Regions from separate parts of the Homo sapiens genome. Here region 1 is linked to region 2. A link means that fine-mapping ties the variant in region 2 to the expression of a gene that starts in the linked region. Tissue or cell type: testis. Region 2 holds a variant in brackets; the other region holds the start of a gene. All regions are shown on one strand. Distances are from middle to middle.

Region 1 (8,107 bases), 360 kb after region 2:
TCCCCAAGGCTCCCTGATTTATGCAAATTTAAGCATCTCATATTGTCCCTACTCCCATACTAAGCAAAAGTCTGATCATCAAAAGTTTAAATAAAAAAGTTGTCAGATAATATGCCTTGCTAGCATTGGCAACATTTGACAGGTATCAGATGGTTATTAATGAATTCAATCATTTAATTTACAGGTGGAAGTGGTATAAACTTTTGCTTTTTGCCAGCTGCATTGTGAAATGGTTTTCCTCCCTTACTGTTTAGGTTTTAAGGGTGTAGTTTTTGTAATTTGGGAAGTTAAAAGGAAAGACTGGCTTGGCCCAAAACTGCCTGTGAAAAGCTGCAAGCTGACACCATAGTGAAGTCAGAGGTGGAGCCCATGACTCTGGAGTTCTCTGTCCACTTCAGTAGATAGTTATGATCCCATTTTGGGCAACAGAAATGACTGATCCAAAGTAGATATGCAAAGTGATAACTCACCATTTTGTTGTCAAATCCTCCTGTTATCCCCAGGCAAAAGTCCTGCCCATATCTAAGGACTTGACCAGTGGCATCTCTGTGTACACTGTCAGTGGACAATAAGTATAATGTAAATGTAAACTCTCTGTATTAGAATCATTCTATGACTCTATTTTTTATGCATGCAATTTTGTTTATAATCAGTTTTTTGATAATTTATATTCACATACTGTAACTGAATTAGGTAATTAAATAAAAGGTGTTTTCTTTTGGTCTTAAAATCCAGCTAGCACCCTACTCCCTGCCCTGCACCATAGCTAGCACACAAAGCATCCCCACTTTGTGAGCCTCTGGTTAGAGTAAACTAAGCACATCTTGCTAATGTATACTAAGGAATTCTGGTCAAGTGCATTGACATGTTCAGAGAGAACCAAGGTAACACATTTGTAGACATTTAATACGGTTCCCTCTTAATCCTTCAGGATAACAGAGGTTGTGATCAATTTTTACTTGTCTTAACATATGTATTCAAAGGAAATCTAAATTAGAACTTGAAGAACTGTCTATATATTCTTTTTTTTCCCCCAGGCTGGAGTTCAGTGGTGCAATCTTGGCTCACTGCAACCTCCACCTCCCAGGTTCAAGTGATTCTCATGCTTCAGTGACACAAGTAGCTGGAATTACAGGAGCCTGCCACCACGCCCAGCTAATTTTTTGTATTTTTTGTAGAGATGGGGTTTCGACATGTTGGCCAGGCTGGTCTCGAACTCCAGACCTCAGGTGATCTGCCTGCCTTGACTTCCCAAAGTATTGGGATTACAGGCATGAGCCACTGTACCTTGCCTGGGTCCATATATTCTTGCAATGCTTACATTGCTGTCATACGAATTAGTAATAGTTTTTAATTGTGATCATGTATCTATTTCTTCTCTAAGGATTTAATTGTTCATTTTCAAAATCTCTTCAAATACATTTTTAATGGACAGTTAATTTTAAAAGAGAAAATCCCATCTAGTGCCACATTGTATTAAACTACACGTTTTTATTGTAAAAAAAAAAATAGCCGTATTAAGAACAATGAAAACACTCAAATGAGCTCAAAAAGTTCCAAAATGTTATAGGGAAAACCTACTTTGCTTCCAGGCAGAATATGGATTTAATTCCCTGGATCCTATACTCATGATTTAAGCATTTTGAATTGAACACAATTATCCTGCTGTCTAAGGTAAAAAGGGATTGTAAAGTTCCTTTGACAATAATTCTCAAGGTAAGCAAAGCAAGATGAAAATCACGAAAAATGTTCACAAAACCTTTCCCTCCACTCAGTGGCTCCAATACCCAGGAATCTTTAAGCTACAAGTGAAACATATTTATGATGAAAATGAACTGAAAATTAAAGTCTCTTTACCTCAAAATGATAAAAGTGTTTCTGCCAATTGGGGTCTTGGCTTGAACTGCGCTCAGGCCACAGGGTACCTCTAATTCGTCTTTCAGATGGGACTGAATTTCATCTGGAGTCATACACAGGCTCAGGTCCCCACGCAGAAACACATCAGCTTCTGTGTCAGGATCATCAGGATTCACAAGCATCACTTTGTCACCGTAATGAATATAGCCATCTTCAGTTACGGAAAGTTGCATCTACAATTTTGATAGTAGTTTATTACATAAACCATGCAATTCCTCAACAGTTACTGCCAAGGCAATTTTCTTCCTTCTCGGACTAGTACCCATTTCATTCAGGATTTCACTTGGATTCCCTCGAACCCTTAGTTCCTTCTTCCTTTCCCTTCCCCTTTGCCAAGGCAAAGCTCCCAATAATTCCAAATGAAGTCGAATAAAGCTGGTTAAAATCACATGGATTTACTCATTATCCTAGAAATTCAACATTCATTGAAAAATTTGTCGATTACCAACTAAGGGGCATTTTACTTATTTACATATTAACTCATTTATTTCTTTATTTGTAAAATGCAGGTAAACATGATTTAGGGCAGACTGTTTATGTTTCTAAAATCTTAGAAGAATTTAAAACATTGCAAATTGTTTTTAAAAACTGTTATTTTCCAAATGGTAACTCAGTTATGAAATTTTTTTCTTGCTTAACATATACTCACACCAAGTTCAACAGAATTTTGAAAACAATGTCTGAATTTAAAGTTACCGGTCTCAATAAACATACGTGTGCATGTGTCTTTATAGCAGCATGTTTTATAATCCTTTGGGTATATACCCAGTAATGGGATGTCTGGGTCAAATGGTATTTCTAGTTCTAGATCCCTGAGGAATTGCCACACTGACTTCCACAATGGTTGAACTAGTTTACAGTCCCACCAACTGCGGCACTATTCACAATAGCAAAGACTTGGAACCAACCTAAATGTCCAACAACGATAGACTGGATTAAGAAAATGTGGCACATATACACCATGGAATACTATGCAGCCATAAAAAATGATGAGTTCATGTCCTTTGTAGGGACATGGATGAAGCTGGAAACCATCATTCTGAGCAAACTATCGCAGGGACAGAAAACCAAACACCGCATATTCTCACTCATAGGTGGGAATTGAACAATGGAGAACACATGGACACAGGAAGGGGAACATCGCACACTGGGGCCTGTTGTGGGGTGGGGGGAGGGGAGAGGGATAGCATTAGGAGATATACCTAATGTTAAATGACGAGTTAATGGGTGCAGCACACCAACATAGCATATGTATACATATGTAACAAACCTGCACGTTGTGCACATGTACCCTAAAACTTAAAGTGTAATAAAAAAAAAAAAAGTTACCGGTCTCAAGAGATTCTGTTTTAGTCTTCTACTTCTCTGTATGAGAAGTTTCCCCTTGTCTCTCTTCTCTAAGAAGTCTTTCATGAGCTCCTAAACAGAAAATCAACAAAAGTAGCCCTGAATAATATAGATGTTAGTATTAATAACTTTTAGGTCAGAAGCTCTTCCAAGTTGAAAAAGCAAAATTTGAGTACAAAAAAAGAGATGTGAGCATAATTGGAATGATGGAACGTTTTTAGCACTACTTTAATATTTTTACTACATTATAGAATGTTTAGAAAAATGAGAAAGGCAAAACAAAGAAAAAGAAACATCACCAGTAATTACTCCAGCCAGATACCATCCTAAATGACATTTGGAGGCCATGTCTCCCCTGCTGGGGTTTCCCTTGACCGTATGATGACTGACACTAGAAAGTTCACCCCTCCCCAATCTGACCCGTATACGAATGGCTCAAAGCCTTGTTAAGACCACCCTTGGGAGAATACGAGGCAGTGAGTGAGTACAACGTCAATAAAAGGAATACTCAGGGTCATTTAAGAGGGCAAGCGTGGCAGGGTTGGAGTGGGGAGGGATATTATTTCTACCTAGAACCTGTGTCCTCACCTGGCCCGCAGCCTGAGACTGTAAGACTCTAAGGAATACGGGGGACTTAGTGGGGCTCTAGACTAAGCGGGAGACACAGGCCAGGGGCTTGAGAGTCAAGGCATCTGACTTTGGGAGGCCAAGGGACCCAGAGAAAGAAAAGTCAGGGTGCTCGGAGTAGAGGTCAGTGAGACCTGGGTTTGCAGTTCGGCAGGTGAGATTCCTTGGGAGTTTAGAGAAGTGGGGGATTTTAGAGGTATTCGCTGTATGCTGGGAGAGAGAGGAGGCTTGAGGCGCTCAAAGTAGGAGACTGAACTTAGAGCAGGGTCTGGGAGTTCCTGAGCTGCGGGTCTGCGCCTGGCCACACCCTGCGTACCTCCTCCAGGTAGACATCCTCATTCCAGTTGCCTATCCGGACTCCCGGACCATACACGTTCTGCGCCATCGCTCCCTGCTGTTCAGCAAGTGGGCCTCCCTCCGACACCATGCGTTAGCGTGGCGCGTCGCCATGACGACCCGGCCCCAGGCGATTGGTCAAGGTCTGGGACCCTGCTGGCCAATAAGCGACAGCGCGCACCCTCGCCCTGGGGCGGGAGATGGGGCGTCTGGGTCAGCGGCTGTCTGTGGCCCTCCAGCCCGCCCCACTTCCACCTCTTAGATTTCCTTAACTGCAGGGTGGGCGAGAGGGAAAACCCTGGCTGACAAAGTGCTTCCGAGAGAGAAATTTAAAGCTTTCTTTCTATTAGAATCTAACCGAAAAGTGCTATCGAGTACCCCTTGCTTGTCGAGGCAACAAAGAGGAGCTTTTAAATGGAAGCACGGCTTGCTTGCAGCCTATTTTTTGTAATCAGCAGCAGCAGCAGCAGCAGCAGCAGCAGCAATTTCGCCCTAATCATAAAACAATACCTGCTCAATGTACACATTTGGAAACCAAAATCGCATAGAAAGAAGAAAGGAAAATTAATAATTTCAGGGCCTTAAAAGTAAGAAATATACCATGTTAGTATATTTCTGTTTATAGGTTTCTGAGGTTGTCCATATTTTTGCGGACTTGACAGCATCCTCCCTCCCTCCCTCCCTTGCTCCCTCCTTCCCTGGGTCTCAAAGTTAAAGGACGAACCTGTGATTTGCAGGAACTCTTAAGAAAACCAGACTCTGCTGTAGCCAGCATTAATAAAACAAAATATTATTTTCTGGGGAGGGGAGGGATACCAGTTACTGTAGGACTACCGGAGGCTTGATGCAGATTGAATGCATTCAGTAATTTACCTCTATTTAGTGTCTAGTAAGACATGACTGAAATGGAAGACAGGAGCCTCCGCTCCCTTCAGCAAACCCAGTCTAAAAGAAAAGATAGTTCATGAAAACGAATTACTTAAGGAAGACTGTGGAAAAATGCAATTAAAGATGTGCTGATGGGCTGGCGTGGTGGCTCAAGCCTATAATCCAGCACTTTGGGAAGCCGAGGCAGGAGGATCACTTGAGCCCAGGAGTTCTAGACCAGCCTGGGCAACATAGTGAGACCCCATCTCCAATTTAAAAAAAAATACATATATATATATATATATATATATATATATATATATATATATATATATGCTGATGAAGGGCCATGGAGTTGAAGGATCCTTTCTGTCTTGAGGAACTGTGAGAATGGGAATTGGATGGCCTTTGAGTGATGGGAGAGGGGCTGCTTTGGAGCTGAACTGGGAAGGATTTGAACTGGCAGGCTGAAGTGTAGAATAAAAATAGGAACATTCCCACATTCTGATGAATCCACCAGCTCTGTCAATATATCACCACATTCGAGGATACTTCTGAAGGACACATAGGACAAAGCAGTTAGATCAGATAGTATACCACTAACTGCATTTGATAAATTCAGAAACTGAGACTCAAAGAAGCTAGCAGTCTAAATTCAAACTGCTAAAAGTTGCTCAAAGAAAGGACTCAGTCCAAACTTTCCGACTCCAAAGTCATGTTTGTTTGTTTTTCCTTTTAAGTATTTTTCATATTCCTCATAAAATCAAGAATAAAACAAAGCAGCTCTAGTCTCTACATTTTTAACAAGGTTCTAATGATTGGGTCATTCAGTAAGTCCTTACACTGATACAGCTTTGCTCCCACCTACTTCCTTAGTGCTATTTTTGACAAGTATATTACATTTCTATATATAATAGACCCAATAATACAATTATACATAGTGTTTTATACAATTGCTTTAAATCACTCAGGAGAAGAAATATCTTTATTGGTGCTCTATGGTATTTTTCTATGAACACAAATTACTGCTTTGTGTTGTTTTCAACCTGAATAACTTCCTTCCATATTTCTTATAAATCAGGTCTGCTAGCAACACATTCTCTTGGTTTTTGCTTACCTTAATAAGATGCTTTTTCTGGATACATGATTCTTTGTTGATAGCGTTTTTTTCTTTCTTTCAATATTTTAAATATGCCATCCTACTACCTCTGGACTCCCTTATTTCTTTTTCTTCCAAGACAGAGTCTCACTCTATCAACCTGGCTGGAGTACAGCAGCACAATCTCGGCTCACTGCAACCTCTGCTTCCCAGGTTCAAGCAATTCTCATGCCTCAGCCTCCTGAGTACCTGGGGCTAAAGGCATGTGCCACCATGCCTGGGTAATTTTTGTATTTTTAGTAGAGATGGGGTTTTACCAGGTTGGCCAGGCTGGTCTTGAACTCCTGACCTCAAGTGATCGGCCCTCCTCAGCCTTCCAAAGTGCTGGGATTACAGGCATAAGCCACCCTGCCCAGCCATGGCCTCCATTATTTCTGATGAGAAATCAGCTATTAATCTTATTTTGCTTCCCTTACACATACTCTTGCTGCTTTCAAGATTTTTTTTGTCTTTGTCTTTAATATTTTAACTAGATATATTTGGATATTGACCTCTTTTCTTTTATCCTGCTTGAGCTGCCTGAATATGTAAATTAATGCTCTTTTCATCAAATTTGGGGAATTTTCAGGCCTTATTGTTTGGAATATTTTTTCTGATCCTTTGTCTGTCTTCTGTCTTTATGAAACTCCCATCATGTGTATATTGATGCACTTACTGATATCCTGCATTCCTCCAAGATGCTATTTGTTTTTCTTCATTTTTTTCTCTCTGTTCTTCAGATTGCATAATTTCTATTGATTTGTCTTCAAGTTTGCAAATTTTTGTTTTGCTGGCTCAAACTTACTGCTGTATTCCGCTAGTGAGTTTTTTATTTTGGTTATGGTACTTTTCAACTACAGAATTTACATTCGGTTATATTTTATAATTTCTCTCTATTGATATTTTATATTTCATAATGAAACACTATCATCATACCTTCCTTTAATTCTTTAATCATGGTATCCCTTAGTTTTTTGAACATATTTATAATGGCTGCTTTGAAGTCTTTGTCTGCTAAGTCCAACATCTGGGCTCTGTCAAAGGCAGTTTCTGTTGACTTTTTTGTTTGTTTGTTTTTTATCTTCTTTCTGTCTGTGGATCACAGTTTTCTGTTTCTTTGCAGGTCTCATGATTTTTTGTTGAAAACTAGACATTTTAGATACAGGAATACATCATTTTATTGCAATTCACTTTATTGCACTTTGCAGATATTGATTCTTTTTTTTTTTTTTTTTTTACAAATTGAAGGTTTTTGGCAAGCCTGCATCAGGCAAGTGTGTTGGAGCCATTTTTCCAACAGCATACGCTCACTTCACGTCTCTGTGTCACATTTTGGTAATGCTCAAGATATTTCAAACTTCCTTATTATTATATCTATTATGGTGATCTGTGATCAGTGATTTTTGATGTTGCCATTGTAGTTGTTTGGGGCACCATGAACCATGGGCATATAAGATAGCAAATCCAATCAATAAATGTTAGGTGTTCTGACTGCTCCACCTACCAGCCATGTCCCCATCTCTCTCCCTCTCCTCAGGCCTTCCCAGTCCCTGAGACACAACAATATATAAATTAGGACAATTAATAACCCTAAAATGGCCACTAAGTGTTCAAGTGTTCAAGTGAAAGGAAGAGCCAAATGTCTGTCTCTGTTTTGTTTTTGTTTTTGTTTTTGAGATGGAGTCTCGCTCTGTTGCCCAGGCTGGAGTGCAGTGGCACGATCTTGGCTCACTACAACCTCCACCTCCCAGGTTCAAGCGATTCTCCTGCCTCAGCCTCCCAAGTAGCTGAGACTACAGGCGCATGCCACCACACCCAGCTAATTTTTTGTATTTTTAGTAGAGAGGGAGTTTCACCATGTTAGCCAGGATGGTC
Region 2 (8,107 bases):
GAAGCCCAGTCCTAAAGCAGACGCCAGTGCTGCCTCCCTGAGCCACTGCCCAGCCTCCTGGAAAGCCCAGGGCACTGCTGCCAGCTGGCCCTCTCTGAGCCTGGCTCTGAGAGCAGGCCGACTGTGCACGGGTTCAGAGGCATCCATCACCTGGAGAAGGCACAGAAGGCCTGCTGCGGTAGGGCTGGATTTGAGTCCAGGTAGGTGGAGAGGAGAATTACACATTAGGAAACCATGTGAGCTAAGGCAGGAACACACGAAATCTCTTCCAGGACAGGGAGGAGCCCTGTTGTGAGAGCCTGAGAAGGGAAGAAAAAGCTGTAGAGAATAGCAAGGGCAGATGATGGAAGTGTATGCATTGATATAAAATATGCACCCTCACCTTAGTCACAGGAGAGATCATCTGGTGGATATGAAAATGAGTCTCTTCTGTGCTCCCTTAAGAAGGAAGAAGCGTGGGACAGAGGACTTTCAAGCATGGCTGTCAACCTTGTCTACCCATTGGGATCACCTGGGACCTCTGATGTCTGGTGCCTTGTCCCCATACTCAGAAATTCTGACTTAACTTGTCTGGGTGCCAGCTGAGAGTGGGGATTTGAGGGAGCAACCCAGCTTCTCCTAAGGTGCAGCCATAGCTCTAGAGCCTGACAGCTGATGAGAATTTTGCTTCCCGGCTGTGTGTGTGTGGAGGTACGTCACCTAATGCTCAGGGCTGACTTCTCCATTCGGCACAGCAGGCGTGGTGCTTAAGGCCCATGATACTTTTAGCAGCCCACACAAATGCTTTACATTTTTTTAATCAAAAGAAAAAAGTGAATATAATTCAGCCTGGATTATATTTGTCTTTCTACCAATGTAATTCTAAAATATAATCTTAAATTTTTTTTATGGAGGAGGGTCCATGAAAGTCACAATGCAGCCACTGCTGGGCCTTACCATGCCAATCTGTGAAATGGGGATAGTGAGGAGTCACCTATTCTACCCAGTTGCTGTGAATAAGTCTTCCTCTTATCCCTCTCCAGCAGTGAAATTTGTCCTACTTTGCACTTACAAAGTAATCTCTTACACCATTTCCCCTATTACTGCTTTGAAGTTTCATAAAATTATTTTACTCTTACAAAATCTTTATTCTTACTAAATGAAAGAACTTTGAGTACCGTGGACCCTATCTTTTACATATATATATATTTGCAGGGGTTGGAAAGCAAATTCCATGCAGAAAAACTAATTACAGTGCTTTGCGCGTTGCAGCTGTGCAATCAGCATTGGTTGTTTTGAACTGGGTGGGAGGCAGTCGGGCAAGCACTTCAAGAGATCAGATTCTTGCAGCACATGTGTGGTTGCACATCTATTGCATGCCGGGGATGGAAACACTCTCAATGAACGTCTTTTTGTGTTTCCACATCTGTAAGATCATCAAGATCACCTGGGGAACCTCAGGCCAGCTCTCAAAATTAGCATATCGAAGTACAAGGCTGCATGGATGTATGTATATAGTATGTATATTAATCCCCATTGAAATTGAAGAATTAGCCAAACATGGGAGTCACTGCTTTTTAATGTCCCTTGTGCCAGATGTTCTCTATGTGCTTCTTCAAGTCAACTCTCCACCCTTCTCCACCCGGTTTTCTGCCCCACAGACAGACTCTTAGAAACTGCACCCAAGGCTTCCCTTGCCCTGTGGCTTCCAGTTGGTTTCAGCCTATGGGAGGCACTGACAGGAGATGGTGAGAGGAGAGTGAGGAGAGTACAAGTGTTAATTTCCATCCTCCTCATCCCATAATCTGGCACAGGCTGTGTTCTGCCTAAGGTCCTATCCTCTAGCAGTAGCTCTCTGCAGGTTCTGGAAGAGAACCTTCCAGGCAGCTGAAAACCCAAAGGCATTTATATTACCCTTCCTTTGGTCTCTACAACCTACTCACTCCCTTGTAAATAGGCCCTTCATTAAACTCTCTTCAGTTGCCTCTTCTGGGCTGTGCCATAGCTTTCTTGCTTGGACCCTGAGTTCCTTAATTCTATACTGTATTTTTTTTTTTTTGCAGGTAATCCTGCAGTCTTAATGTGATCACCTTCAGGGTTTGGAAACTCAAATGCAATACCAACATTTATGTTATGTTATTACAGTTTACTCTCCAGGTTTTTTAAAGAATGTTTATGCTTTGCTTTCAAATATTACTATTGTCTATTTTATCCCTACAGCAAATGTATGAGATTGTTATGATCAGCATTGTTTTAGTTGAAGAAATTGAAGCAACACAATAAACGGTAACTTGTTTCAGATTGCACTGCGAGTAAGTGGTAGAGCTGGGGCTCCCACATCGTGGTCCCTGCAGTCCCAATATTCTTGGTGAATTCATCTGAATGCCTCAGAACCCCAGGGAGGAGGAAGCTGTCATATTTAACACCTAGAATTTACTTTTCACAAGTTGGCTAGCTGTGGTTTCTGGATTATAGACTCCTCAAGTGCACCGTAGCCTTGCTTCAACTTGTGGAGAGGGCTTTATTGAAATAATTTTTCCCCATGATTGATGGGTTGCAAATCCATGCCATGAATCTGGGGGCAGCAGGCTTTTCTTTTTGCTGTTGCTGAGGCAGCACTGTAAAACATAATGTACGGCCACATCAGAGTGAGTATTTTCCAGGAAAAATGCCTGCTTCTACTTAAGTTTTATGGGGTCCCCACTTAACATCTCCTTTGGAGTACACACAGAGCTTTTCTAGTTGAGTCTTTCCTAGAGACACTCAATGGACGGAAAGCCACATCATCTACCCTAACAAATGAAGGGGGAGGCAGGGCTCTTTTTTAGAAGGAAATGGCACACTTTTCTCTTTTCTTTAACTGTTTATTGGCAGACGTTTAGTGTGAGTCTGCATACCTGGAAATAATTATATCCCATTCCAGGAATCACTTACAAACCTGGATATTGAGGTGAGACCTGGAAAAAGGGATTCTTTTCACTTCAAGAGAGAAAAATTGGATATGCAGCTGGATTGGCTGTCTCCCTTTTGCAAGTTATTTAACTTTTTCTGGGCCTCAGTTTCTTCACTTGAAACTTGAGATAGTAACATCCACTTATAGGGAAATGAGAGGGATTATGTTAGATAATGAAAGTCAACATACCTTACAAATGTAAATTACTTTCTTGTGATCTTTTGGATCACATGATTAAACAATATTTTGTGCTGAGTTTTGTATGTTTGATATGGGTCAAATGGATTTGGTCCCTTGAGCACATCTCTGTCTGGCCCCGGCAAATATATCACCCAAGTGAAGCTGAGCCGGTGATAACAAAATCTTCCCTCAATGCAATCACTTGGGGGTCAATGGTGAGAAGAACACAGAGTTAAGGAAAGGCCTGACAGAGTTGGGTTTGAATCCCAGCTCCACTCTTATCAGCTGTGTAGCAAGGAAACAGAATACGATTTGCAGAACCCAGTGGAAATACAGACCCCTTTGTTCAA[A/G]ATTTATTAAGAATTTGAAATGGCAATAGCAGAGCATTAATACAATCATGTGGGGTCCCCTTCGGAGGATGGGGCCTTGAGCAACTGCACATGACCTTGTGGGTGACCTCGAGGAGCTCTTTTAACTGCTCTCGGCCTGGGTTTGCTCATCTCTAAAATGAAAGGAGAGCAAGTGACTGTCTGGCAGGGTTATATGTGAGGAGGGGTGCTAAGGTGTCCAACAGGCACAGCACAGGCACACGTGGGGCTCTGCAGGCAGACCCTGCACTATTCACAGTCCTTAACAACAGCATTTGGCTTAGGGACTCTGAGCCATGCTGCTCCTTCTTTAGTTTATTTCTTGAATGACTCACTTCTACCAGCACAACGGGCAAGGACTTTGGTAGGGTAACAATCTAGATCTAGACAGAGTGAGGTTGGAGTCACCGTTGTTACCAAACATTGATTATTATGAACTATTACAGTTGAATCTAAAACTAGAAGTAAAAAAAGAAAAAATCCTTTAAAAATGAGTTATGGTGTAGGCGGAATTAAAGAAACAAGATATAGTTTCATTGGGCATTCGATCTTTAATGGGCAATGTCAGGTTATCAGTGACTCCAGGGCACACTATGGCTCATGGTCAAAGCTAGCTCAATACCTGTTTTTATAAATAAAGTTTTATTGGAACACAGTCACAGCCATTCATTTACCTATTGTCTAGGGCTGCTTTCACATGACAGTGGTAGAGCTGAGTTGTTGAAACAGAGAGTATTTGGCCCACAAGCCTAAAGTATTTACAATCTGGACCTTTACAGATCAAGTCTGTTGAGCCCTGATTAATGGTCTCCAGAGTCGTCATGTGTGGAATAAGGAATTAGATGAGAACGAGTACGCTTTGTTAAGAGAACAGCACTGCACAAATACTAGAATTGATTAGCCCCTAATGTTGACCTACTGTGGTGTTGGGTCTGCTATAAATCTGCTTGATTCTGGAAGAAAGTCAAGAAATACACAGCATGTAATTAAATGATCAACCAGTCAAGCCTTTATCGGGTGGCAATTATGGGCAAAGCACCTTGGTAACTATCACCTCAGGGGGGCAGTTTGGCTTGCCAAATAGCTGAGTGCCACATCAGTGCTGCTGGTGAAAAAATATGAAAGGAAAAAGAAAATAAAGGAAAACTTATCCTTTCTTCAAAACACTCAAACCTTCTCCATTTAATTTAGACTCCCCAGCTAACATATAGTTAAAATCTCAGCTGTGCTTTTCTTTGAGGGGGAAAAATTCCAATGCTTTGGGAAATCTGCCAGTCCCTGACACTAGAGCCCTTGGATTTTGGGGGTGGTGATAAAGAGACTCACATTCTCCTCCATCACCAAAGGTTACATTTCCAAATTGAATGTATTGAATGTTAGGAGTATGTACATGTTAAATGTTGTTCAGCTGCAGAAGTGCTAAGAGCCTTAATAAAGGTATTGATGTGGGCTTTCTCAGCACCCCCACCACCACATGCTCCACTATTGAGATCAGGGTGAATGTTCTGTAGTGCACACCCGTAAGCCAGGCTGTATGAGCAAGCCAGTCTGCTGTGATCCTCTTGGCGGATCTCCATCATTGTTCCAATGGGCAAGGTGCCGAGGGGAGGCTGCAGCCAGACTTTCTGCCCAAAACACAGCAAATTCTCCCATCTCCAATCACTTGACCATAGGCTCTTTCATCTATAAACCTGGCCCCTTTGCCAGACCATCCTCCATTCTGCCAAATTTGAATAATAAGCCCCAAAGCAGCTCCTGCTGCTGGATGAAGCACACCTTCCTCTGAGCGGGGATTCACATTTCCTTCCCAGGCACTGAGCCATGAGCTGAAACCACTTTTCATCCTGAAATGAGGCTGTGCTGACTGATGGTTACAGCTTTTTTTCTGGGTCTCTGTCAACATGTGCAAATAAATTAATTCGATTCAGTGAGAGCAAGAAAATCAATTAAATTAGTAAAATATCTCACTGTCTTGTGTCAATGATGATAGTCCATTTTATTTAAAAATAACAACACCTCTCTTTAAGACTGTGTAGACCCAGGAGGCTACTAAACCACCTTGTTATATTCCCGATTATATTAACAAATTGCCACCTCTTAAGAGAGGGATTCTAATCTCTATGGAACCACTCTCCTCTCTGTCAAGTTCAGGTGGTGATAACTGCTTCTTACTCATCTTATAAGAATATTACGAAAACGCATGAGATCATGTCTCAGAACAGAGCTCTAGAAGAGAAGCTCAGAGCTTGTTGTCACCTTCCCTTATTCTCCACTTTTTCCTGACCTCCTTTTTTTCTCTACTTTTGCTCATAGAATTCCACTCCTAGTGAGAAGAAAGTCGCCTGTGGCAATCTCAGCATTTACCCTACATCTTTCCTAGGGGCATGTTCATTAAGCCAAGATATACCCAAAAGATGGTGTGCAGTAACCAGCACTCTAGGTTTACATTGGAGATAAGGAATGTTTGTTCTTAGAGTGCAGCATGCACATGCATTATTGAAATGTTATATAACCATAAAATCGAGGTCATACCTCCCTGTGGGATAATCTCCACCTTCTCTCTAATACCACCGTGCACTTGCCAGATCATTTCAGGTGTGCATTCTTTGCAAAGAGATTGCTCTTTCCTTCCTATTTCTTCCCCCAACAGATCTCTGCAAAAGTTCCCTTTTGTGACACCATTTTCTTTGACAATCTTTCCATTGGAACCAGTTTCTTCTGCATTCTGCTGAGCATCTTCGTTCTCTGGGAAGGATGCCTTCTCAGAGGTGGCCTCCTCTGGCAACCACAGGTCTGTTTCCCCCTGATATGGTTTGCCTGCGTCCCCACCAAAATCTCATCTTGAATTGTAGTTCCCGTAATCCCCACATGTCGTGGGAGGGACCAGGTGGAGAAAAATCAAATCATGGGCGGCTACCCTCATCCTGTTCTCGTGATAGTGAGTTAGTTCTCATGATATCTGATGGTTTTATAAGGGGCTTCCCCCTTCACTGGGTACTCATTCATCCTCCTTCCTGCCGCCCTGTGAAGAAGAACGTGTTTGTTTCCCTTTCTGCCATGATTGTGAGTTTCTGGAGGCCTCCCCAGCCATGCTGAACTGTGAGTCAATTAAATCTATTTCTTTTATAAGTTACCCAGTCTCAGGTAGTAGCTTTGCAGCAACATGAGAATGGACTAATACACCCCACTTCCTCAGTTCCTTCTCTCCTGATCAGAAGATATTGTATGCATTATCTCCAAGGCTGATCCATCTGGTGTGCCCATGATGCTAACTGGAACATCATCAAATAAGTTTTGCCTTATGTTCTTTGAATTTTAACCTATTTCTCCGCACCAAATTATCCATCCATTTAACAAATATGCTCCAGCTATGAATATGCATCTACACTTTCATCTATACTCACATCTATAATACTTCTATAGCAAGACCTTTTGGAAATTCACAAAATTGATTTAGGAAAACAGAGTGAATATAGATATACTAAAAAATGTAAAAGGAGTTACCCTTGAGGTTGATAGTACTACTAGATATAAAAATGTTTTAAAGCTATAACAATTAAAATTGTTATGCTAACAAAGCAACCACACAGCCCACCAAAATTCTCAATAATTGGTGTTGAATACATAAATGAATGTCTATCATTATATAATATAAAAATTAGGAAAAGAATAAACATCTAATGCATTATTTTAGAACCATTAAATGTTAAATAAAATTAGCTCCACATCTTATAGCATACAAAATAAATTACAAATATATTAAAGAGTTAAATTATAAAAATCAAATTATAGAAACTATAGAAAACAAATATTGTCAAAAGTTCCCAGAAAATCTAATTGATCATCAAATTTCTAGAAAAAATTGAAGTCACAAAGTTAAAGCTCAATGAATTATACCTCTAGGACAAAAATATTTTACATAAGAAACAATGAAAAATTAAAGGAGAATTAAAATAGTTGACTATACATTTACAGCAACAAATATGACAAAGAGAAAATATAAATGTTTTATTTCTTAAAATATGAAAGAAATTTGTTTTCATTTGCAAGCTGATAGTTTGTCAATATTTTATATTTTCCTTATTAATTGTAGAAGCTTTTAGCATATTGTGTGTACTAAATCTTTGCCTGACATGTCTTTTACAAATATACTTCTTATTTTTTTCAATTGTTTTAAAAATTACTTTATGGTTCTTTACATGTTTACGAAATACAAATCTATTAACTATTTTGTTTGTAATTTCTGCTGTTAGTGCCAGGCTTAGAAGGTAGGCCTTCCCTACCTCAGAATTATATAAATTCACCTATGTTTTATGTTTTTGTCTTAATTCTACTTTTAATTTTAACATTTTTGTCTTTTTTTGTTTTAAGTTTGAAGAGAGATCTTGATTAATTCTCTCCTTATGCAATTGTCCTGATGTTACTTTTTGACTAATCCATCGTTGCCCCTATCAATATGAAATTCCATTTTTAGCATTTTTGGAGATTTGCACATAAACACACATACAGGTGCTAGTCTAATTTTTATAATTTTTATTCTGATCAGTTGATTCTGGTGCTGGCTTGTAGTTGTTCAGATTTTTCGAAGTTTGGTAATAAATTTTAACATCCAGCAGGGTAAGTCCTA

The links. PIP is the estimated chance that this variant, and not a neighbour inherited with it, causes the effect.
Region 1: it holds the start of CFAP161, and the variant in region 2 is fine-mapped to the expression of CFAP161 in testis (GTEx, PIP 0.97).

Annotation. Positions count from the first base shown.
Region 1 is chr15:81,130,499-81,138,605 of GRCh38, reverse strand. It overlaps CFAP161 (cilia and flagella associated protein 161), which reads right to left and starts at 4,336. Exons shown (of 7, transcript NM_173528.4): 1 at 4,208-4,336; 2 at 3,247-3,336; 3 at 1,858-2,090; 4 at 471-555. The coding sequence starts at 4,276.
Region 2 is chr15:81,489,459-81,497,565 of GRCh38, reverse strand. No RefSeq gene overlaps it. Among named protein-coding and RNA genes, the nearest start is that of TMC3, 120 kb to the right of the region's middle. The variant A/G (reference allele first, on the strand shown) is at 3,463.